Homo sapiens: one gene and its partners. The protein of the gene in region 3 interacts with the protein of the main gene of each other region in a biochemical or structural test. Each region holds a gene or a part of one and is shown on either strand. Other genes may lie near its edges.

Region 1 (4,193 bases), on a different chromosome or scaffold from region 3:
AGGTTGGAAGAGACATTGACAGACGAAGAAGTGTAGGAGGTAACACGATGACGTGCCAAGAACTCCTTGCTGACCAGGCCATGCATAGCCAGGATCTTGAGGAATCCATGGCGAAAATTTTGGCCGATGAAGGCGTAGATGATGGGGTTGAGGCAGCTATGGAGAAATCCCAGAATCTCAGTGGCATCCAGGGCCCGGCCGATGTTGTTGCGGCGCTCACAGCTCTCCTGGATCACCTGGGTCCTCATGAGGGTGTCTGCCAGCAGGACCAGGTTGTAGGGCAGCCAGCAAAGCAGGAAGATGAGGACGACAGCAAAGATGACCCTCATGGCTCGGTGCTTCTGCCCCATGTGGGCCTTAAACAGTGTACGCAGGGTGAATCCATAGCAGAACAGCATGACAAACAGCGGCACGATGAAGCCAAAGGTGTGAGGCAGGATCCGCAACACCATCCGCCATTTTGCTGTGTCATTTCCCAGGACCTCATAGCAAACTGGACTGGAATTGTTTGGATGGTAAGCCTGGCGGAAAAGGAAGAAGGGCAGGGACAGATTCATAGACAGTCCCCAGCAGCCAAGACAAACAAACTTGACCAAGTGACGCTTCTGGGTCAGTGTGCGTGTGGCATGGACAATGGCCAGGTAACGGTCCACACTGATGCAGGCCAACAGCAGGATGCCACTGTAGAAGTTGACTTCCTTCAGGAGTGAGACCACCTTGCACAGGAATGTGCCAAAAATCCAGCCATTCACCTTGGAGGCGGCCCAGATGGGCAAGGTCAGGGCAAAGAGTAGGTCGGCCAAGGCCAGGTTCAGCAGGTAGACATCAGTGACGGAGCGGCCGACCCTGCTGTATAAGATGACCAGCATCACCAGGGAGTTTCCCAGCAGGCTCAGCAGGAACACTAGGGCATAGGCGATGATCACAACATACTTGTTGAGTGTCTCAGTTTCTAGCATACAGGGGCTGTAATCTTCATCTGCAGGTGGCATGCCAGTGAAATTTAGATCATCAAAATCCCACATCTGTGGATCTGTAATATTTGACATGTCCTCTTCAGTTTCAGCAATGGTTTGATCTAACTGGAAGGTTAGAAGGAAGGAAATGTGATTTAGTAGCTCGGATTCAAGGCATTCTCATCAATGATGTGAGAGCAGTTACTGGGATATCCTTGGCTTCCCTGTTGGTTTGGCAATGAGAGCTCTCCTTCCTCCTTTGACTCCAACCTGGTCTTCTTCGGAGGTTGGCTTCCCAGTGTTCTCCACCTTCCACAACTCTAAGGCCTGGCCTGAGTGTGGGGTAAGATGGAATATGGGGAAAACACCTTAGCCCTAGCTCAACCTACAACTGCCTCCTCTCAGCCTATGTCTCTACCTCTGTCCCTCTTTAGCCTTCTCCATCCTCAGCTGTGTCTGTGCATTTGGATGTGGGGACCAGGTTGGTCTTAGACATTCAGGGAAGGGCCAGCATTAAGCAAAATGCAAGAAGGCAAACCTGTTCCCAGGTGTCCCCTTCTACTATTTCTATTCCTATGTTCTCCCTGATTCTTGTTTACCCTCCTTAAAATCTACTGGGGGAAGGAAGTGATAACAACACATTGCATTAAACTGTATATTTTAAGCCTTCTTTAAATGAGGAGCACATATTTTGTTCCTCTGTCTAAAGGAGTTTTAAGTATTTGAGAAGATAAAGTCTCCATCTTGGTCCCTGAAACCCTCCACCCCTGAAAAAATCCACAGAATCATTCAAGAGTTTTCAAATATATTTCCTATTGTGAAATAGTTTACTGAAATAAGATCTTCCCAGAAGCCCAGTATGTGAAGCAGATAAAAGCTGAGCCACTGTGGGGCAGAGTGTGCTAATCTCCGAACCCAGATGGCCCCTAAAGAGCCCCTCAAAGCTCCAGGACTCTCCAGAGAAGTCTGAAAGCCTTTGGAAAGTCACCGAGGTTGGTTGTAAAGACACCTAGCATCCAGTCTTCATTCCATCCTGATTCTACCATTAATAAGTTTCGTGTGTAATCCCAGCCCTTTGGGAGGCCAAGGCAGGCAGATCATGAAGTCAGGAGTTCGAGACCAGCCTGACCAAAATGATGAAACCCCGTCTCTACTAAAAATACAAAAAAATTAGCTGGGTGTGGTGGCGTGCACCTGTAATCCCAACTACTCAGGAGGCTGAGGCAGGAGAATCACTTGAACCCGGGAAATGGAGGTTGCAGTGAGCCGAGATCGTGCCACAGTACTACAGCCTAGGCGACAGAGTGAGACTCCATCTCAAAATAAATAAATAAATAAATAAATAAGTCTCATGACCTTGAGTGGGGTCTCGTACCCCTATAGATTTCAGTCTTCTCATCTGCAAATCGAGGAAGACAGAATCATCCACCTCTCATTTGCTGCCAGGCCTGAGGGTGTATGATGAGTCCACTCAGATCCACACATTTTAGTGTGTTCCCTCCCTACCAGTATTTGCATTTTCACTGAAGACAAAGTCTTAAGGTGAAGCAATAAACATCAAATTGGGGAATGGTCAGCCTCTTCCCACAAAAGGGCAAGGTATAAAAAGAGGGGATGAGGAGGCTGTCCTCTTCACCTGCTAACTCCATGTATGAGTGGTGGTCACAAGAGAGGAAGCGGGCAGCAGAAATCCTCAGCTCCCACAGAAATGAATACATTTTCCAAAATAAAGTCAAGCCAAGCAGCCCTACCCCACAGAAAGTCCTAGCAAACAGAGGTGGCTTCCTACCTGAAGCACCGGCCAGGTGTGTCCAACAGTAGGAGCTGCAGTCAGAGATCAGAGTGACTTAACAGCTAGAGGGCACTTGATGAATAAACGGAAATAAGGAAACCACATCAGATGACACCTCCCTTCTGAGCCCCACCCATGTCTACATTTGGGGAAGAACAGTTTAAGTCAAGGGATCACAGACTTGTGATTAGAGACTGCCAGGGTCCATATGACCAAGTGGGGGTCCCAGGTGTGAAGCTGGGGTTGAGGGTCCATTATCTGAATTCTCCACTCTATGGATGATCATTTTTATTATTTTCCTTTTCTTGAATTTATTTCCATTTGTTTATTCCTAAATTCCCTAGTATATCACCTGTGGAAGCTTGCAACTTCCTGACCAAGTATAAAGGGCGAAGGATTTGACTTACAGCAGAGACTTCAGAAGGAGTCCCCCATAGGAGGGACTTGGGGGCAATCCAGTGGGAAAGAGGAGGAGGACTGCGCTTGAGTTGTGTTTGAACAGCAGGCACTCAATCTCTACTTATTTTGCAGGCTTCTTTGAGGTGGCCTAGCTCGGATTCAAGGCATTCTCATCAAGGATGTGAGAGCAGTTACTGGGATATCCTTGGCTTCCCTGTTGGTTTGCCAACGAGAGCTCCCCTTCCTCCTTTGCCTCCAACCTGGTCTTCTTTGGAGGTTGGCTTCCCAGTGTTCTCCACCTTCCACAACTCCAAGGCCTGGCCTCAATCTCTACTTATTTTTCAGGCTTTTTGAGGGTATTTGAATGGAACACAAACCCTCCTTTGCCGCCAGCCACTCTTTCGCACAATCACTGCCAATGACCAGTTGGTTTAAATGGCCCTGAGGCTGACGGCATAGGCCACTCCCAGAGTCTGGCTGGTTAGCAGAGAGACCACAGAGCTGGGGCAGTCCATGAATGGAAGAGCTGTGGTCAAGGTCACTGCAGCCCCCATCTCAGTAACGGAGAATGGCTTCTCTGGGAACCCACCTTAGCTGCCTCCAGCAGCTAATGGCTGTCCCCTAGCTTGAGTCTTCTGGCACCTTCGTCACTTCTCCATATAACATGAACCCTGCTGTGAGGCATTTACAAGTCAGCCCTCTTCTAGCTTGGGAGCCATGAGACAGCAAGAACCTTCTTCAATTCATGTTTATGTTCTCTTTCAGGGAATATAGTAGGTGCTCAATCAATGGTTGTGGAATAAATGAAGGGAGACATTTCTCCTGTGATTCATGGACCATAAGTCACCACCACGATTCAGTGTCTATTGCTTTTGGCTACACACTAAAGTCACTGGTATGCCTGATAGCTTCACTTCCACACAGCCCAGTTGGTCTGCCTGGCATTGCTTCTTTCCAACCTTCCTCTAATGTTTGGAGCTAATGCCAGTCTGTGCAAGTATAAATCCTGCCCTACCACAAATGCCAAATTTACCATGCCATGGATT
Region 2 (3,500 bases), on a different chromosome or scaffold from region 3:
TTCTGCAATAGCCTCAATTGCTTCCTGGAGGAGAAGGAGACTCCATGAACAGAAGGTCAGCGTTCCGACTGCCTGTCTCGTGATAGCACTTTTCCCCCCTGCCTAGTTTCAATACACACATATAACTGCATGGCCGCCATTGGCCCCCAATCCCTGCTGGTCCCCAATGGTCTGAGGCCTTCCAGCCATTCATCTTCTCTAGCTTCAGCCCTCCAACCCCTCAAAGCTTCTGGCCCAGAGCCCTTCCCTACTGCCACGGCCACCAGCCTCTGTGCCCAGGGTCTCACTTTGAAGAAGATGTCTGTGGTCATGGTGAAGCCATGGGTGATAATGGGCTCCTCGTCAGGGGGTTTCCCCTTCCAGCAGTCTAGCTCCACGCAACGGCAGCCAGAGAGCAGCACCTGGCGGTACATCTCAGCCGAGGAGAGGCCTGAGAACTGGCCGGCTGAGCCAGAGGATGGGGAAGAGGTGAGGGCATCACCCAAAGGCAGCCCAGCTCTCCCCCTACCGCCACTCCATCATGGTCTGTGTTATTCTCAGGGCCAGCAGCATGTGGGCAACCCCTGTGGAGGATGCAGGGAACCCCTGTGAAAGCAGAGGTTGGCACCAATGTTATCAGGGCCCACCTGTCAGGTAGGTGTTGTGGGACGAGTTGATGAAGTAATGATTGAGTGGCTGCGTCATGTCGTGGTGGAGCAGCAGCTTGTCCTGGGCCAGCACGCTGTTCTCTGGCCCACAGAGAAACCAGACCATGCCTTCAGGTGACAGCTGGCCTGGGGGACAGGAGATAGCTGTCAGGCTACAACCCCGCTGCCAAGGCAGGACAGGACCACAGGGGACAAGGGGTTCCCTTAGTCCTCACCCCTCTGTGCATTGATGCCACTGGGCTCATACTTGTCGATGAGGCCCTGCACCTGGTCAGGCCGTGCTGGCGGGAACAGCAGGGAGTTAAGCCGGGAGTCCCGCTGTTTCTGGTTGATGAATTTGGTCAGGTGCTCCTTCGTCATGTAGGGTTTGGCCTTAGCATGGCTTCAAGCCAGAGAGAAGAGCACAGGTCCATATCCCTTGGGCCTGGAGGCTTAGACAACCCCCTTGTCCAGTGAAGCCTCCTGACTCCCGGCATGGCAGGTGGGAGGAGGGGATTGTTAGCCACCACCCTTTTCCCATGACCAGCACAACCCAAGAAACTCACTAAGAAGTGAAGATCTCATCTATTTCTGGCCGAGGACAGAGGCTCATGAGGAAACTCTTGTAGACAGGTTCTGGGAAGTCCTCAGGATTGATGGCGTCATTCTAGGGGCATAGTAACCTTATTGCCCCTGCCCTCACCTTCTCAGAGCTAAGAACCACAAACTCGGCCCAGCCCTGGTCAAGGGGACCTGGTCAGAAGGCGGGCTCAAGGCAGACAGAAGAACTTCAAGGACACCCAAGCATCCACTTCTCAAGGCCCTGGTTGCTGAGCAGAGAGCATGCTTAGCTGGTTTGCTCTGACCCTGATTTTGTACAGTGGCTATTCCATTGGCTGGGGCAGGATCGGAACTAAGAATAACCAGAATGAGGTAGAAAAGAGGTCAGAAGAAATGATGCTGCTTGCCAGGCTAGTAGGCTATCTTTTTTAAGTGGAGGACAAATATTCAAAAAGAAGCAATTTGAATATAAACATATATGCACCTAACAACAGAACCCCATAATATATAAAACAAAAACTGATAGAATTGAAAGGAGGACAATTCAACAATAATATTTGGAGACACCAAAAGCACCGGGACAAAGAAAGATAAATTAAACGTCATCAAAATTAAAAACTTTTGTGCTTCAAAGGACACCATCAAGAAAGTGAAAAGGTAACCCACAGAATGGGATAAAATATTTGCAAATCAGATATCCGATAAGAGATAAGTCAACAAAAAGACAACCCAGTTGAAAGATGGACAATGGATTTGGACAGGTATTTCTCCAAAGAAGATATATAAGTGACTAATAAACACAGAAAAGGTGCTCAATATAATTTGTAGTTAGAGACATGCAAATCAAAACCACAATGAGATACCACTCCCACTAGGATGGCTAAAACAAAAAACAGACAATCACAAGTGTCAGCGGGATGTGACTAACCTAAAACCCCACACAGCACTTTGGGAGGCCGAGGAGGGTGGATCACCTGAGGTCAGGAGTTCGAGACCAGCCTGGCCAACATGGTGAAACCCCATCTCTACTAAAAATACAAAAATTAGCCCAGCATGGTGGCACATGCTTGTAATCCCAGCTACTTGGGAGGCTGAGGCAGGAGAATTGCTTGAACCTGGGAGGCAGAGGTTGCAGTGAACTGAGATCACGCCACTGCACTCCAGCCCGGGCAACAGAGTGAGACTCTGTCTCAAAAATAAATAAATAAATCCCTACACAATGCTCTCACTTTAGAAAACAGTTTGGCGGTTTCTCAAATTGTTAAATATAGAGTGACCACATGACCCAACAATTCCACCCCTGGGTATATACCCAAGAGAATTTACACATGTTCACACAAAATCATGTACATGAATATTCATAACCAAAAAGTACAAAAAACCCAAACATCTACCAACTGATAAACAGATGAACAAAATGTGGTATATCCATACAATGGAATATTATTAGGTGGTAAAAAGGAATGAAGTACTCATGCATGCTACAACATGGATAAACCTTGAAAACATTATGAGAAATGAATACAGCCTGACATCGAAAAGCATATATTTATGATTTCATTTACTTTACCACCAGAATAGGCAAATCTATAGAAATAGAAATGAAAAGTACATTTGTGGTATTCAGGGATTCTGCACCTTTGCATTCCTTCCCCCCCCAAAAAAAACATTAAATGTCTTTCAGAATCACACTGGAAGGCCAACATCAGTCTTAGTTTGGAGCAGAGGGTCTGAGCAGGAGAGTCTAACTGGATCTCCCCAAACCCCTCCCTGTCTCTGGAGCTTCAGCTCCAAGCAAAGTTGGGTCAGTAGCCTCTACTGAGACACAAGGAAAGCAGATAGATAAGGAGGACTTAGCCAAGGGAGGAGCTCAGGCAGCAGGAGAGAGGGAGGGTGGATGTGTGCTGACCACAGGTAAGTGTTGCTGGCTGTAGGGGAGCCGCAGGAGCCCATTCCTACCTCTCCCCAACGCCACATTTGGATCCCTGTGACTGACTGCATCAAGGAGTCACCAACTCTGCAGAGCTGTGGCTGTGGGGTAAATGCTCCTCCTGGGATTCATGTGGGCAGGTGATCAATGGGGGTCGTGGTTTTATTTATTTATAACGTTCCAAATTCTTACCAGGAGAAAATACTCCATGGGGTATAGGCTGGGACCCACACAAGAGCACTGGCCAAGCAGGGACAGGGGCTGAGATTCGCTCCATTGGCCAGGCTTGAAGCCTAGCTCAGGGCCATATCAGCCCAGAGGGCTCCTTTTTGTAATTCACACAAGTTGCTTCATGGGGTGACCCTGCTTACAACTTGTAATTA
Region 3 (4,152 bases):
ACAGACCCTCCCCAGTGCCTCTCTATTAGTCCCAGTTAGAGGGGTGAGCAAGCCAGCATGGGAGTTAGGGGTGACAGGATACAGGAGATCCACCCATGGACATCCCTGTCCTGTGAGCAGACTCGAGCCTCAGTTTGCCAGGCTCTGAAGCGAGGTAACGATCCCAGCCTCGCCTGCCTGCCCACCCCACAGGGTCACACACTCTTGCCTCTGGTGCCCTATGGCACAGGCTCAGGTCCTGGCTGGGGTGGGAGTGGGGTTCCTCCAGAGAGCTCTGGCCATGCCTCCCCCGTAGGGGGATGTCCCTGGTGCAGAAGGGCCCTGCGAGCCCCGGCAGTAAATCCTACAGCCCTGGTGGGATGGCAGGGCTGTGTCCACAAGGCCTGCCCTGCCAGCGGCACTGAACCAGGACACAAGCCCAGGCTATCAGCAGCCTACCACCAAAATTTCTCAAGAGGCTCCGAGCCCTGGGGAAGGCTCCAGTACCCAGTCCAGCCTGCTCCGCGGCTTAGGTGATTTGGGGTATGCCCCTAAAGGAAGCCGAGAGGCCATATCATGCCCATCCCCCGGTGCCCTGCCCGAGCTTCGGGTTCTATTTTTAGAAGTCCCCACAGTCATTGGATCCAGCACATCCCTGCATACCCCCTCCCCAGAGTAAGGACATTCCTCCTGCTATCTAGCTTAAGGCTTCTGGGCTGCCATTTAAGCCCCTGGCTGGCCGGGGCCAGGTGGCACATAGACCCTGGGTGAGGTCATTGGCTATCCTGAGTGCCACTGAGCCCAGTGGCCAATTTGCACCCATAGGGATAGGGCAGGGAGCACCAGCAGGAGGCCTCGAGATGGTGGAGCTGGGGGAGATGTGGGCTCAGTCCCAGGCAGGGGAGGCCACAGGGCCCATGAGAGAGCACACAGAGGCTCCACCTTATACAGGAAGGAGTCCTGCAAGCATGGGGGTGGGGAGCTGTGGGAAAGGGCAGTGGGAAATCCACTGGGGCTCACATGCTCACAGGTCACCACCTCATGCAAAGTGTGCAAGGCTGTGGGTGCCCAGGACCCTGTGGTCTCCAGGGCAGTAGATCTGGAGGGGTGGAATCTCCAGGTTAGAACAAGCCACATCTGCAACTGAAGGATGGAGGTCAGGGCCTGTTCCCTGCACCAGAGCCAGGCCAGCACCCCTCCTGTAAGCATGTGGCCTCTATGGCTATTATAAGGCTCTCACGGCATCCCTGGGTGGGGCTTCTACTTCTGGGGTCCCCTCAAGTACCCGTGGAACAAAAAAAAGATTACTCCTCCACTGGGGGCATTGGCTCCTGACCCGCTGCCCAGGTTCCCTGGCCCCTCTGCCAAGCCCCTTCAGGCCTTGCCCACTTCAGTGCTTCCCCTCCAACCCCTTCCTCCAGCCCCCAGGCCCAAGGCAAGTCCTTAAGGCCCCAGAGAAGAAACTGTCCCCTTGTTCCCCTGGTGGGCAGTAGCCCAGATACCCCTGCCTACCTACCACCCTCCAGTGACAGACTGGGGGCCTCCCCCTCTGGCCTTGTGCCCGGAACAGCACGGTCAGGGGCTCAGCCACCAGGCAGGGTTGTCCTTGCCCTGTATGCCTCACAGTTCGCCCTGAGCCTTGGGGCCTTCAGCCCTGGGTCTACCAGTGCCTTGCTGGGGAGTCTCTTTGTTTGACAGAAACTGACGGAGTGCCTACTACGGTCTGGGGGCTGTTCCCCCATCAGTCCCTGCTCCTGGAGTGCTTCCTCAGGAGCATGGCTAACTTTCTGCCTCTCTGGTGTTGCTGTCTCCAGCCAGGCGGTAGAGTTACTCAGACAACCCCTGATGTTCTGTGTCATCTGCATCAGGCCATGCTGCTCCCCATCACAGACACTGCAGGATAGGGGGCCATCTCACCAGGCCCCAGCACTTGTGGGGAACAAGACCTGAGACAGACAAAGCAGCCATGGTGAATGGGGAGAAGCGCCCAGCCCCATGAGCCAGGGTCTTGGTGTCTCAAGTTTGGGATGGAGCAGGTGCCCAGTACTCAGTCCAGCCCAGCCCCACACTCTGACAGCTGGGCAGCCAAGGTCAACCGTCTGTCTGTCCATCTATCCAACTGCCCATCACCTGCCCTCTCCATGCTGGGAATACTCCCTTCCCAAAGCAGCTGCCCATATCTAGGGAAATGCTCAAGGCTTGGGGGCACCCTGAGCCCACTCTAACAGTAAAGGGATCAGGAAGGTGCTGTACTCTCTGTCCAGCTACCTGCCTGCCTGCCTGCCTGCCTGCCTGAAAACTCAGCATTTTCTTCTCTGCTAAAAACACCTACCACCTGCTCATGATGTCTCACATGCATAACAGGCCGGCGCGCTCCAGTGAGCAAACAGCTGTGGCTGAGACCAGAGGACCAGGCCAGTCCCAGGGGATGGGGCATGCTCTGCTTTCTGAGAGGCTCAGAAAGGACAGACAGACAGACGGACACACATGCCCTCCTCCAAGCGTGCCTGCCCCATCGGGTGCCAGGCTGTGGCAGGGTGCACTCACCCGGGAGATAGTGAGGGGCATGTTGAAGTCCTTGCCCCCCTGCAGACGGAAGCCCCAGGGCCCGGGCCCAGTCAGGGTCACACTGTAAGACATGCTGGTGCTGTCAGCGGCCGCCTCTGCAGACAAAGGGTAGAGAGGGTTGAGTGAGAGGGCACTCAGGCACTCCGCCTGCCCGGTCCACACCTCTGCCCCTGCCCCTGACCCCCAGCCTTGCCTGTTCTGTCCCTTGCTGCCCAGCCGGGCTGCGTGGAGCTCTTGAGAGGCTCCTAAGAATAGCTGGGAGCGAATGCCATCGACACTGATATCTGCCTTCGGCTGCGCCCATAAATGGACTGTAACCCTACACTGTGCCTGCCAGCCTGCCGCCTCCCAGCCGGTCCACCATGACTCACACGGCTAATATAGCCCCTGGGGAGGGGTGTCCGGCACCCAGCACCCCCCAGGGGGGAGGAAGGGGAACTGGCCTGGTTGGTGAGAATGCTCTGGTCTCCTTGCTCCTGTGTCCTCTGGAGAGCGTAGACACTCGCTCTTCCTGCCCAGTGGTACCCATCCTCTTGCTCAGAAGACCAGGGGCTGAGCTCCCTTGGGTAGGGGCTTTGCTGCCGTGTGGTCCCTGGCCAGGATTCTGGGGTTGTGCTTTATCCAGTATGGGGCCCTGGAGGTGCCTTGGCTTGAGCTGAGCCTCCAGCTGGTCTGTGACTGGCCCAGGGTTGTCCAGCCATAAAAACGATCATCATAACAGCAGCTCTGGGCATAGCCAACCTCAGTATGGGCCCTTCACTCCCTGGGATCCTGAGAAGCTGCCACCTGGGCCCGCAGGAGACAAAGCTCAGGGAGGTTAAATGACTTCTCCAAGGTCACACAAGGAGTGGACCCAGGTCACACTGGAGCCTGGGCTGATTCCTACAGAATGCATGCCAGATAATGGGCTCCCAGTAGCCACAGAAGCCTCCCAAAGCCCTGGTCCTGGGCAGCTGGCCCTCTGCCTGCACCCCTTGGCATAGGGTCTGAAAGCAGGTCTGAGGCAGGCCCATCCCCTCCAGACCCTCTGGGGGCCCAGCCAGTTATTCCTGGCTCTCCTGTCTTTGTGCTCTGGAAAACTTGACGGCAGCATGGAAAGCTCCAGCTGCCAGTGCCACACGCCAGGCCCCGTGCCCTTTGCGCAGGAATGGCAGGGGGCAGGGAGAAGGGAGGAGACGCCATTTGCTCAGCTGCTAGACACAGGGCCAGGAGGGGCAGGGAGGGGGAAGCACGTGTGGCATGTTCAGCCTGTACCCCAGAGACAGTGTGTTCTGGATGGGGGCCTCAGCACCTTGGGACTTCTGCCAGTGCGGTCTTTGGGCCAACCCCTTCCCCAAGAAAGACCTCAGGCCCCTATGTGGTCTGGAGATAGATCAAGGCCCACCCTGGCTCCTTGGTTGGAGAAACTGAGGCTCAGGGGAGGCAACTGGGTTGGCTGCTTGCTGGCCCTCTTGGAGGGGTCTGGCTTGGACCCTGAGGAGTCAGTAGAGGCCTGGGTGTGAGTCATTTCTCAGCTTCTAGCCTCACTCCTGGGGCCTGGCACATGCAAGGTACAAGGTAGGATCACCCATATTACGGGGTTGTTTTGTCACTTGCCCAAAGTCA
Region 4 (3,936 bases), on a different chromosome or scaffold from region 3:
CTGCCGGGTTCAAGCAATTCTCCTGCCTCAGCCTCCTGAGTAGCTGGGATTACAGGCGCCCGCCACCATGCCCGGCTAATTTTTTGTATTTTTAGTAGAGACAGGGTTTCACCATCTTGGCCAGGCTGGTCTTGAACTCCTGACCTCGTGATCCACCCACCTTGGCCTCCCAAAGTGCCGGGATTAGAGGCGTGAGCCACCGCGCCTGGCCGCCTTGTTTTTTTTTTTGAGATGGAGTCTTGCTCTGTCCTCCAGGCTGGAGTGCAACGGTGCGATCTTGGCTCACTGCAACCTCTGCCCCCTGGGTTCAAGAGATTCTCCTGCCTCAGCCTCCTGAGATTACAGGCACCCACCACCATGCCCGGCTAACTTTTGTATTTTTAGTAGAGACGGGGTTTCACCATGTTGGTCAGGCTGGTCTCGAACTCCTGACCTCAGGTGATCCACCTGCCTCGGCCTCCCAAAGTGCTGGGATTACAGGCGTGAGCCACTGCGCCCGGCTCCTTGTTTGTTTTTAATGAAAGGTTTTAGTTGATTCTTAGTCAGTGTGATTTTTTTTTTTTTTTTTTTGAGACAGGGTCTCGCTCTGTCGCCCAGGCTGAAGTGTAGTGGCGCAATCTTGGCTCACTGCAACCTCAGCCTCCCGGGTTCAAGCGATTCTCCCACCTCAGCCTCCCTAGTAGCTGGGACTACATGTGTGAGCCACTATGCCTGGCTAATTTTTTTGTATTATATAATTAGTAGAGGTAGGGTTTTGCCATGTTGGCCAGGCTAGTCTTGAACTCCTGGCCTCAAGTGATCCACCCACCTCAGCCTCCCAAAGTGCTAGGATTACAGGTGTGAGCCACTGCGCCTGGCCCAGTCAGTATGATTTATTGAGCTCCTACTATATCCTTGCGAAAGCCTCTAGGAACATGGATATTTAGAAATCTGTAAGACCCAATTCCAGCCCCAGGAATTCACAGTACAGTGGGCAGCCACGAGTTAAGGCTAAGAATTGCTGAAGAGCTGTAAAAATAAAGCAAGTTTTCTTGTTTTGGAGAATAATCACAGAATTCGGTTTAAGGATTCTATGTGCTGTTGCAACTCTAGAATTTGTTGTTGTTGTTGTTGTTTGAGGCAGGGTTTCACTCTGTTGTCCAGGCTGGAATGCAGTGGCGTGATCTCAGCTCACTGCAACCTCTACTTCCTGATATCAAACAATCCTCCCACCTCAGCCTCCCAAGCAGCTGGGACTACAGGCATGCACCACCATGCCTGCCTAATTTTTTTTTTTTTTTTTTTTTTTTTGTAGAGACAGAGTTTCACCATGTTGCCCAGGCTGGTCTTGAACTCCTGGGCTCAAGTGATCTGCCCACCTCAGCCTCCCAAAGTGCTGGGATTACAGGCCTGAGCCACTGTGCCCGGCTCATCATTTTTATATGGTAGAGGTTTAAGTCAGGAATTTAGTTAGAAGGGATTAATCAGGAGTCTTCTTTCTGGGCTACCTTTACCTAGCAAACATCCTGTGTTTACTTAGACTAGGGTTCCTCAACCTCAGTAGTACAGACATTTTCAGCAAGATAATTCTTTGTTCTGGTGGTTGTCCTGTGCATTGTGGAATGTTTAGCAGCATCTCTGGCCTCTGCCTGCTAGATGCCAATAGCACCTCTCCCTTCAGATATGACAACCACAAATGTCTCCAGATATTGCCAAATTTCCCCCAGGGAGGGCGGCTAATCATTGCAGGTTGAGAACCACGTACAGCATGTTTATGATAGAAGGGAGAGGACTGTCAGGCAGTTTTGTGTGTGTTTTTAAACAATTAAAGGGCATTGCCAATACTGTGGATTTTAGCTTCTTTGGAAGTTTGATGTGAAAGGAGGCAAAAATCCTTCTTGCACATCAGCTTAAGGTTTTGCCCATATCGTATTCAAACAAAACCACATGGCTGGCACATAGTGGCTCTCAATAAATATATAATAAGTTGAATGCACTATTCAGCACATAGCTAAAGTGGTGGTGCCTCCAGGGAGGGACGTGAAACTTAAAAAGGAAAGACTGGAGTAGCTACTCAGGAGGCTGAGGCGAGAGGACTTGAGCCCAGGAGTTCGAGGCTGCAGTGTGAGCTACGATCCAGCCACGGCACTCCAGCCTGGGCAACAGCGGACGCCCAGACTCAGAATCCATGACAGACTCTGGAGCGAAGGAACAAGTTCAGGGATGTTCCACAATCACGCGATTCCCAGGACAGGAAAGGGGCCGGTGGGGGTCGCAGAGCTCGACCAAATTCTGGGCAGACTACTCATCCGGCGGCAGGAAGAGCGCGGCGCGCACCGGGCCCGCGCGCACCGGCTCGCGCCGCACCCCCGGCCGGAGAAAGTCGCGCTTGTTCTGCGCCAGGCACAGCAGCCGCCCGGGCTCGGTGTCGTGGCCGTCCAGCACTTCCAGCTCCACGGCGAAGGGCGTCCGCACGTCGCGCTTCACCAGCCGCACCAAGGCTTTCTCGGGCTCCAACGCCCACAGCAGCCCCATGGGCTGGAGCCCCGCGAAGCTGCCTCCCAGCGCGGGCGCGCGCTCCAGGTCCAGCTCGTCGCGGGCGTCGGCACGGTAGCGCGCGTGGGCCCGGAAGAGCGCGCCCTCTTCGTCGCGCAGGGACGTGCGCAGCGTGACTGGCTGCTCCGGGGCCAGGCCGCGCACTGCGATGCGCAGCGGCTCGTCCCAGCAGCAGCGGCCCGCGGGCTCCAGGATCAGCGTCGCTGCCATCCCAATCTGGGTAGAACAGGGGCGACCCAGCTCCGCGGAGTCAGTGGGCGGGCCTGGCGGCTTTGCCGAGCGCTGGAAAGTAGTCGAGGGCGGAGCCCTTAACACTACTCCCATTGGTTGGACTTGGGGACAGGCTCCAGGCCGCTGCGTGGGGCGCCTAGAATTTGTGCAAATACACCAGTGTCCCAAATGAAAGAGTATCTGCTGAAATAAGAGTTAATGACCAATCCGGCCGGGGGCGGTGGATCACGCCTGTGATCCTAGAACTTTGGGAGGCCGAGGTGGGTGGATCACACCTGAGGTTAGGAGTTCAAGACCAGCCTGACCAACAGAGTGAAACCTCATCTCTACTGAAAATACAAAATAGCCAGGTGTGGTGGCGCATGCCTGTAATCCCGGCTACTTGGGAGGCTGAGGCAGAAGAATTGCTTGAACCCAGGAGGCAGAGGTTGCATTGAGCCAAGATTGCACCATTGTACTCCAGCCTAGGCAACAAGGGCAAAACTCCGTCTAAAAAAAAAAAAAAAGAGTTAATGACTATTCCTGCAATCCAATGTGGTGAGTGTCGAAATAGAGGCACAAAAACCACTGAGAGCTAAAGGATTGAGAGAGATACAGTCCAAGAATCTAGATTTTGAAAAAGCATCCCAGGTGATTGTACTCAGGTGACCCCTTGGAGAAACATGGTCGTAATCCGTCCTTTACCCCTCAGTCCCTTACCAAGCCTTTTTTCCAGGGCTAATGGTACCTGGAGCAAAGCAGATGTTTAGGGAGGCAGACCTAGCCGAGTTCTGGTCTGACCCTGATCCTTAATATTAATACCTGGTGATCTTTAGCAAGAAACATAACCCTCTAAATTCAGTTTTCTTATCTGAAAAGGCTTATTGTGACCATTAAATGGGCTAATGTGTAAAAACACTACACTGACACACCTGTAGGTTAGTACCCAGTGAAAGTTTTGTTTTGTTTCTTACCTCACAAATCTAATCACTGGCAGAGTCCATTTTGGGTTGTATGCATACAGAGTTCTGGCAGTAAGCAAGTGGCACTCTCAGCCTGTGTAATTGAGGAGAGTTTTATAAAGGTACTATCTACAAAGGCATGGGCAAGATTTAAAAACAAAAACAATGAAACAAGATTCGGTGTAGAACCCTGAATCTGAAGGTTCAAGGGAAGGGGGCAGTCTGATAG
Region 5 (3,500 bases), on a different chromosome or scaffold from region 3:
ATATATTAAAATAGAAAAATAAGTATGAATAAAATAAAAACATTTATTTGTAGTAAATATAGTATATTTACTTTTTATAATTTCATATTGAGATTTAGTGGTTTGAGAAAGTTAATTATGCCATTGTTCATTCTAATGTTCCTTTTAGATCCAGCCAGAGGGTGGAGGGCTGTCATAGGCAAGTCTATAAACACATGCTTCTTTTGTTCAATGGAGAATATTGAGATACCAGGCTCTGACTAGGACTGGCTAGATGTTATGTAGTTCTGTTTCTTCCTTTGGGAAGGCTGTATTTCCCAGCATCCATGGCCCCTAACTCTGGGTAGGGCAGTATAAGAGTTCTGATCAATAGAATATGTACAGAAATAATGTTTATTCCTCCCAGGCATACCCCCTAAAATAGTCCATATGATCTTCCATGCTGTCTGCCTTTACTATTTGTCCAACAGATGGAGCAGATTTAGGGAACAACATACAAAGCCTTGGGTGATGGAATAGCCACTTTTTGAAACATTGCTTCAGAAAGAAATAACCTGTATTGTTTTAAGTCATCAAGACTCTGAGGTCTGAAAACTAACAGAGAATGTAAATTAAGATTTGGCTTAATTAAAACAGTATATAAAATTTTGTCCTACTGATGAGTTAGTCAACTATCTGCTCAATAAGGAATTATGACTATGTAAGACCTGAAGTTCAAATTCAATGGACTTATATTAATTCACTAGAAGAGACTGTTTCAATTGTATTTAAGAGGCAAGAAAACCCTCTACATATCTTAATATTAGCACGTTTTGGAGCTGAAATCAAGATGACTGTGTGCTGCTCTAGCAAAACATTATTAAACAACACCTGTCCCACAGGATACAGGAATATCTACTCTACAATACCTACTGTTTCTATGGTCACAAGAAATAACATTCTTACAATCTATAAAGCAACTGTCCAAAGGAGATTCATAGAATGTGTGTTAGAAGTAGAATTTTCCATTGACACGCCCAAATAGTATTTAAAGGATACCTTTTGATACTGGAAGAAAAATGCATGTTTAACCTAACCAAATGAATAAGGGAAACATATGCTGTATTAATATAAAGTCACTATATATAAAAAGTATAAAACACATTCCAACACCAACACACATAAACACACACACACACACACACACAGGGAATTATTTCAGGATCAACTGTTTACCTTCGTAGTACAACAAAAAGATAATGTCCTAAAGAATAATTATTATGTCACTGAACAAATGACATTGGTGGAGGTGGTACACAAGCCACTGAGCTGAAGTAGAAAGAATTGAATCAGGTTTATAGAAGGCCTGGGCCAGATCTGGCTTTGTCACTCTCTAGATGTAAAGAGAAAGTTATGAGAAAGTCAGAGACCACAGGTGTTAAATGCTAGGAGTTACAGTCTCTGTTTACTACTAACAAGTTGTTTGACTTGGGAGAGCTATTGTATATATTTCCTTAGCTATGGAATAAAGAGAAGATAATACTTATTTCACGGATCATTAAGAGGATTAAGTCATATCACACATATTAAGTACTTAGGCCTTGGGTGAAAGTAAATATTACTAAATACTGGATATTATACTAATGTTATATTTTCATGACTAAGAGCCATATTATCCTTACTTGAAAAATAAGAAATCACAGAAGATAATTGATATAATTTCTTTAAATGACTATAGTCTGAGTCTATATCTATCCCTTAAAGTCAAATATCCACTTGAAAAATAAAAACGCTAAAAGACATATTTTAAGTAATGACTTTCAAAAAATTCTACAAGAGAGTCTGGTCTGCTATTGAGATTGATTTACAGAAAATAGATGACATAATAAGGCACCAATAATTCCAAATTTGCAACATTTAGAAGTGGGATGGTACTTTGATTTCTTCATTATCCTTCATGACTAATACCCTCATTTGAACATAGAATGTAATAAGATAATTTCCAAGCAACAATTTAAGTTAAAAAGATGTCCTATTTAATGAGCCTTATAGAGATAAATAATTATTTCAGTCACACAAATTTGAATGGGTCTAGAATGTACATGTTAACCCTTCATTTTTGCAGCTTAAAGTGATGTACTTTCTGGGCTTATAAACTGTCAGCAACTTAAATTTTCTTCTCATTCAGAAGAAAGCATTTCTACCAGAGGTAGCGATTGTGAAAAATGACATCAGCAATATGTTGTGGACTTTATTTCAAACTAAATGAAGTAGCCTCACTTAGAAATTCCATAATTTAGTAAATCTTGCTTTGTGCTTACAAATTCTTATTCAAACAAATCCTCCATTAAGACTCAATTCGAAGCAAATAGCTTAAGATGCTGAATCACTAAAATCATTGAAATTTCAGTTCTAATTATACTTTTGATTGGTTTTAAGTGACTATAACATAAAAACAGGGTTTTAATATACCAAGACACTCCATGTAAAACATTGTGACATGGAGGAATTATTTTCTTAATTCAGGATTCTATTTATTGCAAGAAGCTTACCTCCTGCGTACATAACAGCCAGCATAATGGATGAAATCCATGCTATTTCACTGTAGGTAGTGTGGAATATTTGCTGAATTTCTTTGAAGAATACGGTGACAGCTTTGGGGAATGCATAGGAAAATCCAATGGAGATAAAAGCTGCTCCAACCACAATCCAACCCCATCCTCCATCTGGAGGTGGATGCACAGGTGGGGCACTTGGCATTGGTGGCATTTCTGCTCCTCTAGTGGAAATTCAAGTAACCTATATTAAAATAATGAAATAACAGTTTAAATTTTATTTCCCCTTTTGTTTACCACTCTTCATAGTCACTAAAATAGTACTTTCCAGTTAAAACTACAATATGATTTTTCATGAATATTTTTCACACTCTTATACTCAGAAAATTACCAGAAAATGTACAAAAACAATTGATGCAAGTTATATACCTTTGATTATTGTGGGCTAAATATTTAAATAATTTAATTTGATTATTGAAACAAAAATTACTCAAAGTGAAGTTAAGAATTTAGATCTGAACTGAAGTACCATTTTACATTATACATCAGTCATAGCTCTAAGATAGATCTGATACATATTCTACTTCAATCACCAGTTGTTTTAACCTCATTAATTGATACTTTTGGTCTCATTTTTCCTTCCTGTTTAAGGCTAAGCCAAGGAACGAAATGATGGATGCAAAGCCTTTTGACATGATCTATTGGCTTTTTTTATTGCTTTCTGTTGTCTACGCTTTTTGATGATTGTAGAGATAATTCTAACTCACTTTTTTCTTTTTCTTTTTTTTTTCTTTTTCTTTTTTTTTTTTTTTTTTTGAGACAGAGTCTCACTCTGTGGCCCAGGTTGGAGTGCAGTGGCATGATATTGGCTCACTGGAACCTGTGCCTCCCAGGTTCAAGCGATCCTCCTGCCTCAGACCCTAGTAACTGGGATTACAGGCAGGCGCCACCATGCCCGGCTAATTTTTGTGTTTTTAGTAGAGATGG
Region 6 (3,974 bases), on a different chromosome or scaffold from region 3:
TGAGCTAGGGGTCACCTTTGCTGCCAGCCGGTTCTAATGTATTCTTACCAAGAGCTGGCCCAGCTCTCTCTGTGGAGTGGCGTGGATAGGAATTAACCATGGCCTGATCATTCTAAGATGTACTGCAAAACTGCCTTTCTATCTACCGCCTCCCCCACTTCCTTCTGCCTTTGATATGTTAGGATTCCCTAACCCTGACACAGAGACACGCAGAGAACACACATCCCACATATGTGCATGAGCAGACACAAGAGTGTGCACACATGCACGCACAGCTCTCAGCTCTGAATTCTTTTTTTTTTTTTTTTTATACGGAGTCTCGCTCTGTCGCCCAGGCTGGAGTGCAATGGCGTGATCGCGGCTCACTGCAACCTCCGCCTCCCGGGTTCAAGCGATTCTCCTGCCTCAGCCTCCTGAGTAGCTGGGATTACAGGCGCGCGCTACCACGCCTGGCTAATTTTTGTATTTTTAGTAGAGACGGGGTTTCACTATGTTGGTCAGGCTGGTCTCGAACTCCTGACCTCGTGATCCACCCGCCTCTGCCTCTCAAAGTGCTGGGATTACAGGCCTGAGCCACCGCACCCGGCCTCAGCTCTGAATTCTTATGCAGCTGGGACTCACGCAGACGCTACCGACTGTTCCGCAGAGCAAGCATTTTTCTCCTCCAGAACTAAGTGAGCTGGGGAATGCCCAGGCCTGCCTGGACCCTCAAACCCCAGCGGACAGTCAGAGAGAGCTGCCCTGAACAGCCACAGGTGCCTTCCCTGGCCACAGCCTTACCCTGAGCAGCAGGGAGGCGGCAGCGAGCAGACACACCGCCTCCACCCTTAAGGCACACACATGCACACACACACCCGGGCCGGGGAAAATGCAGGCCGGGCGGCCAGCGTCAGAGGCTGACCAGTTGTGTCCTGTCAGGAAGCGGGCAGCCTCTGAACTCACCCAACCAGAGGCGTTACTGTATTGTTCTGGACACAATCGAAAAGACTGGGCCAGCCCCGACTGCGGGCAAGGGGCGGTGGAGAAACGGTTGCCACTGGGGTCAGGAGGACAGGGAAAGGGAAGCGGCTCTTAGGCTGGATTTGGGACAGGAAAGGAAGCGGCGGCCGCGGGGGCCCGACCCTCAAATCCACGGCGTGCGTGGAGCTGCGAGCACGTGGTCGGCGCAGGAAATCTCTGCGGTGGGGAGGGGTCGCCAATGCTCGCGCGGCTGCTGGGACTTGCGACCCCCTTGTAGGAGGCTTGGGGTCGGGCTGCGGCGCTGCAGCGCTCGCTGCCAGCAAAGCAAAGGCGTACTGAGGCCCTGACTAAGAGGGAAGTCGCGGAAGGAGGCCCGGGTGGGCTGCGGTGAGGGAACCCCGCTTCCCCAGCCGCGTTTCTTTCTTCGCAATCTTTGCGCGAAGTCAATGGAGAAACAGCCAAAGCTCGAGTTACTTCCAGGAGAGGCAAAGGAGAGGCAAGGACGCGGGACCCAGCACAGAGCTCACTGCACAAACGGCGCCGTGGGAGAGGGGCCTCTAGAGGGATGGGGACGCCAGGGTCTCCTGCAGCCCAGGAGCGCCGGTATTCCAAGGGCCGACTTTTCTGAGCCCAGCCTCCCCTTGCCCTAAGGAGACCGGCTGGAAGCGGCGCTGGCAGGCCAGGGGGCAAGGATGGGATGACCCCAATTGAAGGGACAAGGCCAGCCAGGTAAATCCGGAGACTCCTCCAGCCCAGTCCGGGACGCGACCGTAGTGGTTAGGACCACAGCCCCCTCCTGGGCCACGAGCGTCGATCTTTCCTGAGCATTCCCCGCTCTCACCCTTCTCAGGTCCCCAAAGTCCGCAACCCTAGTCCAGGCTGGAAATCCGGGGCGTGGGTGCCCTGCAGGCGTGCTCTCCACTTCACCTGTGCAGGTGAGTGGGCGCCTGCGGTGCCTTTCTCTGGGGTGCGCCTGTCCCCCGCAGCCCCTTCCCGCCTCCACGCTCCTGGAGCCCCAGTCTCTCCCCTGCTCCTCCAATCTTCCCCTCTGGGGGCCTGAACCCAGGCCTGTCCAGAAATCTCTGAAGTGGGGGGATAGCCCCCTTCCCCCTGCTCCCACCCCTCCCGTCTCGCCTCCCTTCGTCCCCAGTCCCGGCTCGGACGGAACTGGCCTGGTAGGGTACTCACAGGGTAACGGTGCCGTTAGGCAGAAGGCCGGGCTCGGGAGGCTCCGGGAGGTCCCCGCCGCTGCACACCACCCTCCGCCGAGCCGGGCCAGGGACGCCGCCGCTCAGCCCCTTGGGCCGCTCCCCCGAGCACTTGCAGCTGCGGATGGATAGCGGGCAGCCGGGCGCGCCCCGAGCCTCGGGCGCCAGGAGCAGCAGGAGCCACGGCAGCAGCGGCAGCAGCAGGCGCGCGGGCGCCCCCCGCATCCTGCGTCCCCCGGCGCCCATCAACCCATCGCCCCGCGGGGACCCACAGCGCTGGGGCCGGGCTGCGCGCCGGCCGGAGGGACCCAGGCGTGCGGGAGGAGTGCTCAGCGGGGGCCCGGGGCTCCCGAGGGCGTGGAGGGGGGCCCTGGGCGGAGGCGAGCCCCGGGGTCCCCGCCGCCGCGCCCCGGGGGCATGTCCTGCGAGCGCCCCGGCGGGGAGGACGTCGGCGCGGCTGTCAGCGCAGCGCGGGCAGCTCCCAGCTGCGCGGCCGGAGTCTCAGCGCCCGGCCCTCGGGACACTGGAGGCCCGGCCCCTCCGCGTCGCCTGCTCGCTGGGCGCTGGGCTGGGACCTAGCGGATCGCGCCGGGCTCCTGCTGCCGCCGCCGCCGCCGCTCCGTGCCATGGATGGAGGCAGCTCCGCGCCGCGCCGCTCCCGCCGCCGGTCCCCGCCCGCCCGGGCCTTCCGCGGGGCCCTAGCGCCGACCGACACGCGGCCAGGCCTAGACCCTCTGCCGAGTGGGGGCGGGCCAGCTGGTTCGAGGACCCTGCGTCCCCGCGCCCGCCCTGCACCAACACTCCTCTCCCGCTTGTCCCCGCGCCCCGGGCCAGGACCCTTCCTTTCCGCAACCCATCTCAGACCTCTGAGCCGACCACCACCACCTTCCACAAAATTTCCCTCGTCCGTGCCGGTGCAGCTTGCGTCTCCAGGCTGCTGGGGCCCTCCTGGACCCGCGGGCTTGGACAGAGACGTCTGGGGCGCCCTGTTTTGGGTTGAACTTGGTGGAAGGCTCCGAGGTTTCCTTTGGCCCCTGACACGATGATCAGTCTGGAAGTCGGCTCTCACTCTCCTTCCAGCTCCGGTGGAGGCAGCCGCAGGAGGATGGCAGCCGAGACAAGGAGGCAGCAGACCCTCCTCCGCTGCGGTGACCTCGCTCAGCGGGGGGTGCATGTCATTCGGCCAAGGAGAGGTCAAAGGCCAAGGCAGACAAGGCTAGAGGCTAGACTGGGCCTCCTACATTTTCCACAACGCTGTGTGTGTGTGTGTGTGTGTGTGTGTGTGTGTTTCGGGGACAGTGAGTGGGACAAGGGAAAAGTAGATGAGAAGGAGCAGGGCTTTGCAGCAGGGTGTGGAAAGAGCACTGCGCAGTGAGTCTGGAGACCCCTATTCCAGACTCGGCTCTGCCTCTCATTACTGTCTGACCTTGGACACAGCCCCTAGCTTGCTGGGGTAGCAGATCTCTGGGGTTGAAATGGGGCTCTGCCTGCTCCCCAGTTTATAGAGTGGCATTAGATGCCCAGTAAATCGTGGCATTAGAATAAGAGAGTGTGGTGGGGGGGAGGGGCACATGGTTTCCAAAGGCAGAGGACTGGTGGTGGCAGGGGTGACCTTGACAACTAGTGGTGGGTATAAAGCTGCCTGCAGGCCGGGCGCGGTGGCTGACACCTGTAATCCCAGCACTTTTCGAGGCCGAGGCGGGCGGATCACTTGAGGTGAGGAGTTTGAGATCCACCTGGCCAAAATGATGAAACCCTGTCTGTACTAAATATACAAAAATTATCCGGGCGTCGTGGTGGGCGCCT
Region 7 (3,500 bases), on a different chromosome or scaffold from region 3:
GCCAGCGGACCTGGCCTGTGTGCATGAGGCTCTCGCACTCAGACTTGTTGTTGACCTCGGAGATGTCGAACCTCTCAGAGGTGGTGGTGTTGATGCAGTAGTAGAACTTGCCGGCAAACAGGTTGACACCCATGATGCTGAAGATCAGCCAGAAGATGAGGCAGACAAGCAGCACATTCATGATGGAGGGGATGGCGCCTAGGAGGGCGTTCACCACCACCTGGGGGCCAGGGGGTCCATTGCCAGTGCCTCTCCCAGCCTCTGAGAGAGGGCTCCACATCTCTACGCCACCCAGGGGACCAGGCAGAGCTGGGCATTGTCAATTAGGGAGGGCTTCCTAGAGGAGGGCCGACCTGCTGGGCTGTGTGTGTGCAGGTTGGGGGTGGTAAGGGGGAGGGGGAGGGAGCTGCAGGCCTGGTGGTCAAGAGGGCTCTCTGCTTGACTGGAGCCATCAGCCCAGAGTAGGGGTGCTGGGTTTCTCTGGAAGCAGCCTGGTCACAGGTCACCAGGCAGGAGACAAACACTCTTTGCTCAGCCCCCATAGGAAACTCAGCTCACGTGACCCAGCCCCTGCTCATGGGTTTTCAGCCCCAGAGCCCCAGACACAGGCACAGAAAAGAGGGCACCAGGGTCTTTGAAGCAGCAGGAGCTCTGGGACAGAAGCCCCATCCCCACCAGCCCTAGTCACACAGCCCACCTGACCACTGCAGACTGGGCTGGATCTGACACCCCTCTCTTTTTAAGGAGGAGCCATTTCATGACCTCTAGAGTGGGTGGCACAAGCCTGGTGTGCCCAGGGGAGCTCTGTTCCTGGTTGGGGCACTGACCAGCTGCATGGCCACAGGCAGCTTGTTTCCCCTCAACGGGAGGGCTCCCTGGCTCTGGGGGGTCAGAGGGCCCAGCATTCGGCTGGCCTCTTGCAGGGACAGGAAGGGGCCGCTTGGGGGGGCTCGCCATGGCCTCTAGATTTGCAGAAATTTGTCCCGCTGGAGCAGGTCTTGCTCCCAGCAGATCTCTCTTCCTGGGGAAGTCCCATTTTTCTTGCCCCCCCCCCCACCCCGCCGCAACCCTGTGTTTACCTGCCACTTCCGCTCTCCAGGGCCTGAGTGGATCTTCCCCAAACTGACCCCAAGCTCAAGGGCATGGCCCCAACCGTGACGCCAAGCTCATCAGTGGGGGGTGAGGGGAAGGCTCAGAGCCAGGGTGCAGGCACCTTGTTTCAAAGCCCTGGGTGGCTCAGTCTGAGGCTGGGGAGGGCCACCCATAAACCCACTCATAAACCACCCATAAACACCACATAAACCTGCCTTCCTTCCTCCTCTTCCCTGGCCGTGGGGCCCTCCTGGGTGCTTCTGCAGTCTCTGCTCCCCTCAAGTAGTGGCAGAGGTAAGCTAAGGGCGGGCTGGATCGGGGGCTGAGAGTGGGAATGGGGCAGGCAGAAGATGGCCTGCGGGGAGGACAGCTAGGGGAGGTGGGGGCCAGACCTGGCCTCAGGCAGGGCCGTGGGTCCAAGCTCTCTGCTTCCCTCTGGTGGTGGTTGGAGTATAGACATGCACCCTCCACCCTGCAGTGAAGGTGGCCGGTCCCCCATCCCCAGCCCACCCCAGAGGCCCCTTCAGCACCCACCCTCATGCCCTCGAATCGGGACAGTGCCCTCAGGGGACGCAGGGCCCGCAGTGTCCGCAGGGATTTGATGGGTCCCAGCTCCGAGTAGCCCAGCCAGTTGGCCACCAAGCTGATGATGGAGACCTGCAGGGGAGGGGTGAGGGGATCAGTGCGTGCAAGGCCCCCAGCCTCCCCTCAAGCCCAGGCCACGGGGGTCTTCCTGGACTCACAGCTCCTGGTTGTCTCCCTTAGATCCCCTCCCTAGTGGGTGGTCCTGTCCGGTGGGAAGAGCAGCCCTGGGACCTGTCCCAGTACCTGTAGGAGCCTGGCACCACCTCAGTGATGTCATCAACCAACTGGGGATGACTGTGAGTAGGAGGGATGGTACCCGACTCCTTCGGGGAGGCCTGTGAGCCCATCTAAGAGGCTAAGAAAATCCTCCATTCCTGGCCGGGCATGGTGGCTCACACCTGTAATCCCAGCACTTTGGGAGGCCAAGGTAGGAGGATTGCTTGAGCCCAGGAGTTCAAGACCAGCCTGGGCAACATAGCAAGATCCCATCTTAAAAATAAATAAATAAAATGTATGAAGTAAGAAACTCCTCCACTCCTATTGGCAGGGATGGTAAGTAGCCCTCCTGCCTGCTGTCTTCCCCCAAGGCCTCCTTTCCCTGAGGAGAAGGGAAGGCCTCCCAGTCCCTAACCCCTCCCTGGGCAGCTCTGTCTGAGAAGGGCAGCACTGATTGAGGGTCTGACTCTGGGGGTGGCCTCGGGCAGGTCCTGCCCTTCAGGGCGTGGGCTTCCTGAGGTCCCCGCCACACTGACAGCCTCTGGATGTAGCTACGGGGCCAGCGTGGGGGGACTCACATCCACGATGAGGAAGTCGAGCCAGCACCAGGCGTTGGTGAAGTACACCTTAAAGCCGTAGGCCACCCATTTGAGCAGCATCTCCATGATGAAGATGTAGGTGAAGACCTTGTCGGCATATTCTAGGATGGTGCGAATGACTCGCCGCTGCTCAATGTAGATGTCCTCGAAGGCCTGGGGGCACCAGCACCACCAGGGTGGCTGGGGTCCAGCAGGCTGGGGTGGCAGCCAGGTCCCCTGCCCTGCTCTATGCTGCTGGTTCCCGGGGGTCTGCCGTGGGGGCCCAGCCCAAGGGACAGGCTGTCCGCATCTCCTGGACTCCCACCACCCATCATGGGGATGAGAGCGTTTCCCAGTGGGGAGAATCCCTCAGCCCCCCTTCTCCAAGCCCAACAACAGCAAATTGCCATCATCTGCTGGGCAGGTCCACAGTGACACATCTTCAGTCCTGCGCCCCCAGTTCCCAGGGGTCTCCTGCCTCCTTATCAGCAGAGAGTGCACAAAAGTCAGCACCCACGTAATAAGGGAGGCACCTCTGCCATGTTAGAAAGTCAGCACATCCTATAACCTATCCCGGAGGCACAGCGAGTTCCTTTAGGATTCTCAGGGTTTGGGACTGACCAGAGCATGGCCCTTCCTGTGTGTGGAGACAGGGAGCCCCAAGAGGACCTGCTGTGGGCCTGGCCCCTGCCCCTGACCCGTGCTCCCAGGCAGTGCCTACCAGAGCCCCACTGCTGAGCAGGATCATGAAGACAATGAAGGTCTCGAACCAGTTGTGCTCGACAATCTTGAAGCAGGCCCTGCGCAGAGTCCACCACTTCTTCCCACGGCCCTGGGAGATGTCCACGTAGAGGCAGGGCCAGCGCTGCACGCAGGCTGATGGGGTGAGGGGGGACAGGGACAGGCACCACATCATGGGCCTGGGGTTGCCTTGGGGTGCACAGTCAGCGCCCTCCCATGGCATCCCAGGATGCCCCTCTCCAGCTCCCAGACCCAGGGCCCCCACCTCCTCCCTCACCCAGCTCCATC

Evidence for each region.
Region 1: the proteins of LDB3 (region 3) and CXCR1 interact in a test that uses a peptide from one of them, tested with the Homo sapiens proteins (one large-scale study listed by IntAct).
Region 2: the proteins of LDB3 (region 3) and PLCB2 interact in a test that uses a peptide from one of them, tested with the Homo sapiens proteins (one large-scale study listed by IntAct).
Region 4: the proteins of LDB3 (region 3) and ACOT6 interact in a test that uses a peptide from one of them, tested with the Homo sapiens proteins (one large-scale study listed by IntAct).
Region 5: the proteins of LDB3 (region 3) and SLC16A7 interact in a test that uses a peptide from one of them, tested with the Homo sapiens proteins (one large-scale study listed by IntAct).
Region 6: the proteins of LDB3 (region 3) and ADGRA2 interact in a test that uses a peptide from one of them, tested with the Homo sapiens proteins (one large-scale study listed by IntAct).
Region 7: the proteins of LDB3 (region 3) and SCN4A interact in a test that uses a peptide from one of them, tested with the Homo sapiens proteins (one large-scale study listed by IntAct).

The regions. Positions count from the first base shown.
Region 1 is NC_000002.12:218,164,163-218,168,355, forward strand, and holds the start of CXCR1 (C-X-C chemokine receptor type 1), read right to left. Parts: upstream 2,801-4,193; 5' UTR 2,746-2,800; intron 1,083-2,745; 5' UTR 1,050-1,082; coding exon 1-1,049. UniProt on the Homo sapiens protein: Receptor to interleukin-8, which is a powerful neutrophils chemotactic factor. Binding of IL-8 to the receptor causes activation of neutrophils. This response is mediated via a G-protein that activates a phosphatidylinositol-calcium second messenger system.
Region 2 is NC_000015.10:40,297,936-40,301,435, forward strand, and holds part of PLCB2 (1-phosphatidylinositol 4,5-bisphosphate phosphodiesterase beta-2), read right to left. Parts: exon of another isoform or gene 2,732-3,500; intron 1,540-2,731; coding exon of another isoform or gene 1,474-1,539; exon of another isoform or gene 1,311-1,473; intron 1,294-1,310; coding exon 1,193-1,293; intron 1,030-1,192; coding exon 863-1,029; intron 774-862; coding exon 627-773; intron 446-626; coding exon 288-445; intron 25-287; coding exon 1-24. UniProt on the Homo sapiens protein: The production of the second messenger molecules diacylglycerol (DAG) and inositol 1,4,5-trisphosphate (IP3) is mediated by activated phosphatidylinositol-specific phospholipase C enzymes.
Region 3 is NC_000010.11:86,667,159-86,671,310, reverse strand, and holds the start of LDB3 (LIM domain-binding protein 3), read right to left. Parts: upstream 2,801-4,152; 5' UTR 2,741-2,800; exon of another isoform or gene 2,643-2,740; 5' UTR 2,620-2,642; coding exon 2,527-2,619; intron 1-2,526. UniProt on the Homo sapiens protein: May function as an adapter in striated muscle to couple protein kinase C-mediated signaling via its LIM domains to the cytoskeleton.
Region 4 is NC_000014.9:73,611,381-73,615,316, reverse strand, and holds the start of ACOT6 (acyl-coenzyme A thioesterase 6), read right to left. Parts: upstream 2,801-3,936; 5' UTR 2,746-2,800; coding exon 2,285-2,745; intron 1-2,284. UniProt on the Homo sapiens protein: Catalyzes the hydrolysis of acyl-CoAs into free fatty acids and coenzyme A (CoASH), regulating their respective intracellular levels.
Region 5 is NC_000012.12:59,704,029-59,707,528, reverse strand, and holds part of SLC16A7 (monocarboxylate transporter 2), read right to left. Parts: intron 2,758-3,500; 5' UTR 2,728-2,757; coding exon 2,511-2,727; intron 1-2,510. UniProt on the Homo sapiens protein: Proton-coupled monocarboxylate symporter. Catalyzes the rapid transport across the plasma membrane of monocarboxylates such as L-lactate, pyruvate and ketone bodies, acetoacetate, beta-hydroxybutyrate and acetate.
Region 6 is NC_000008.11:37,795,709-37,799,682, reverse strand, and holds the start of ADGRA2 (adhesion G protein-coupled receptor A2 precursor), read right to left. Parts: upstream 2,801-3,974; 5' UTR 2,415-2,800; coding exon 2,149-2,414; intron 1-2,148.
Region 7 is NC_000017.11:63,945,419-63,948,918, forward strand, and holds part of SCN4A (sodium channel protein type 4 subunit alpha), read right to left. Parts: intron 3,348-3,500; coding exon 3,193-3,347; intron 2,646-3,192; coding exon 2,472-2,645; intron 1,750-2,471; coding exon 1,627-1,749; intron 221-1,626; coding exon 1-220. UniProt on the Homo sapiens protein: Pore-forming subunit of Nav1.4, a voltage-gated sodium (Nav) channel that directly mediates the depolarizing phase of action potentials in excitable membranes.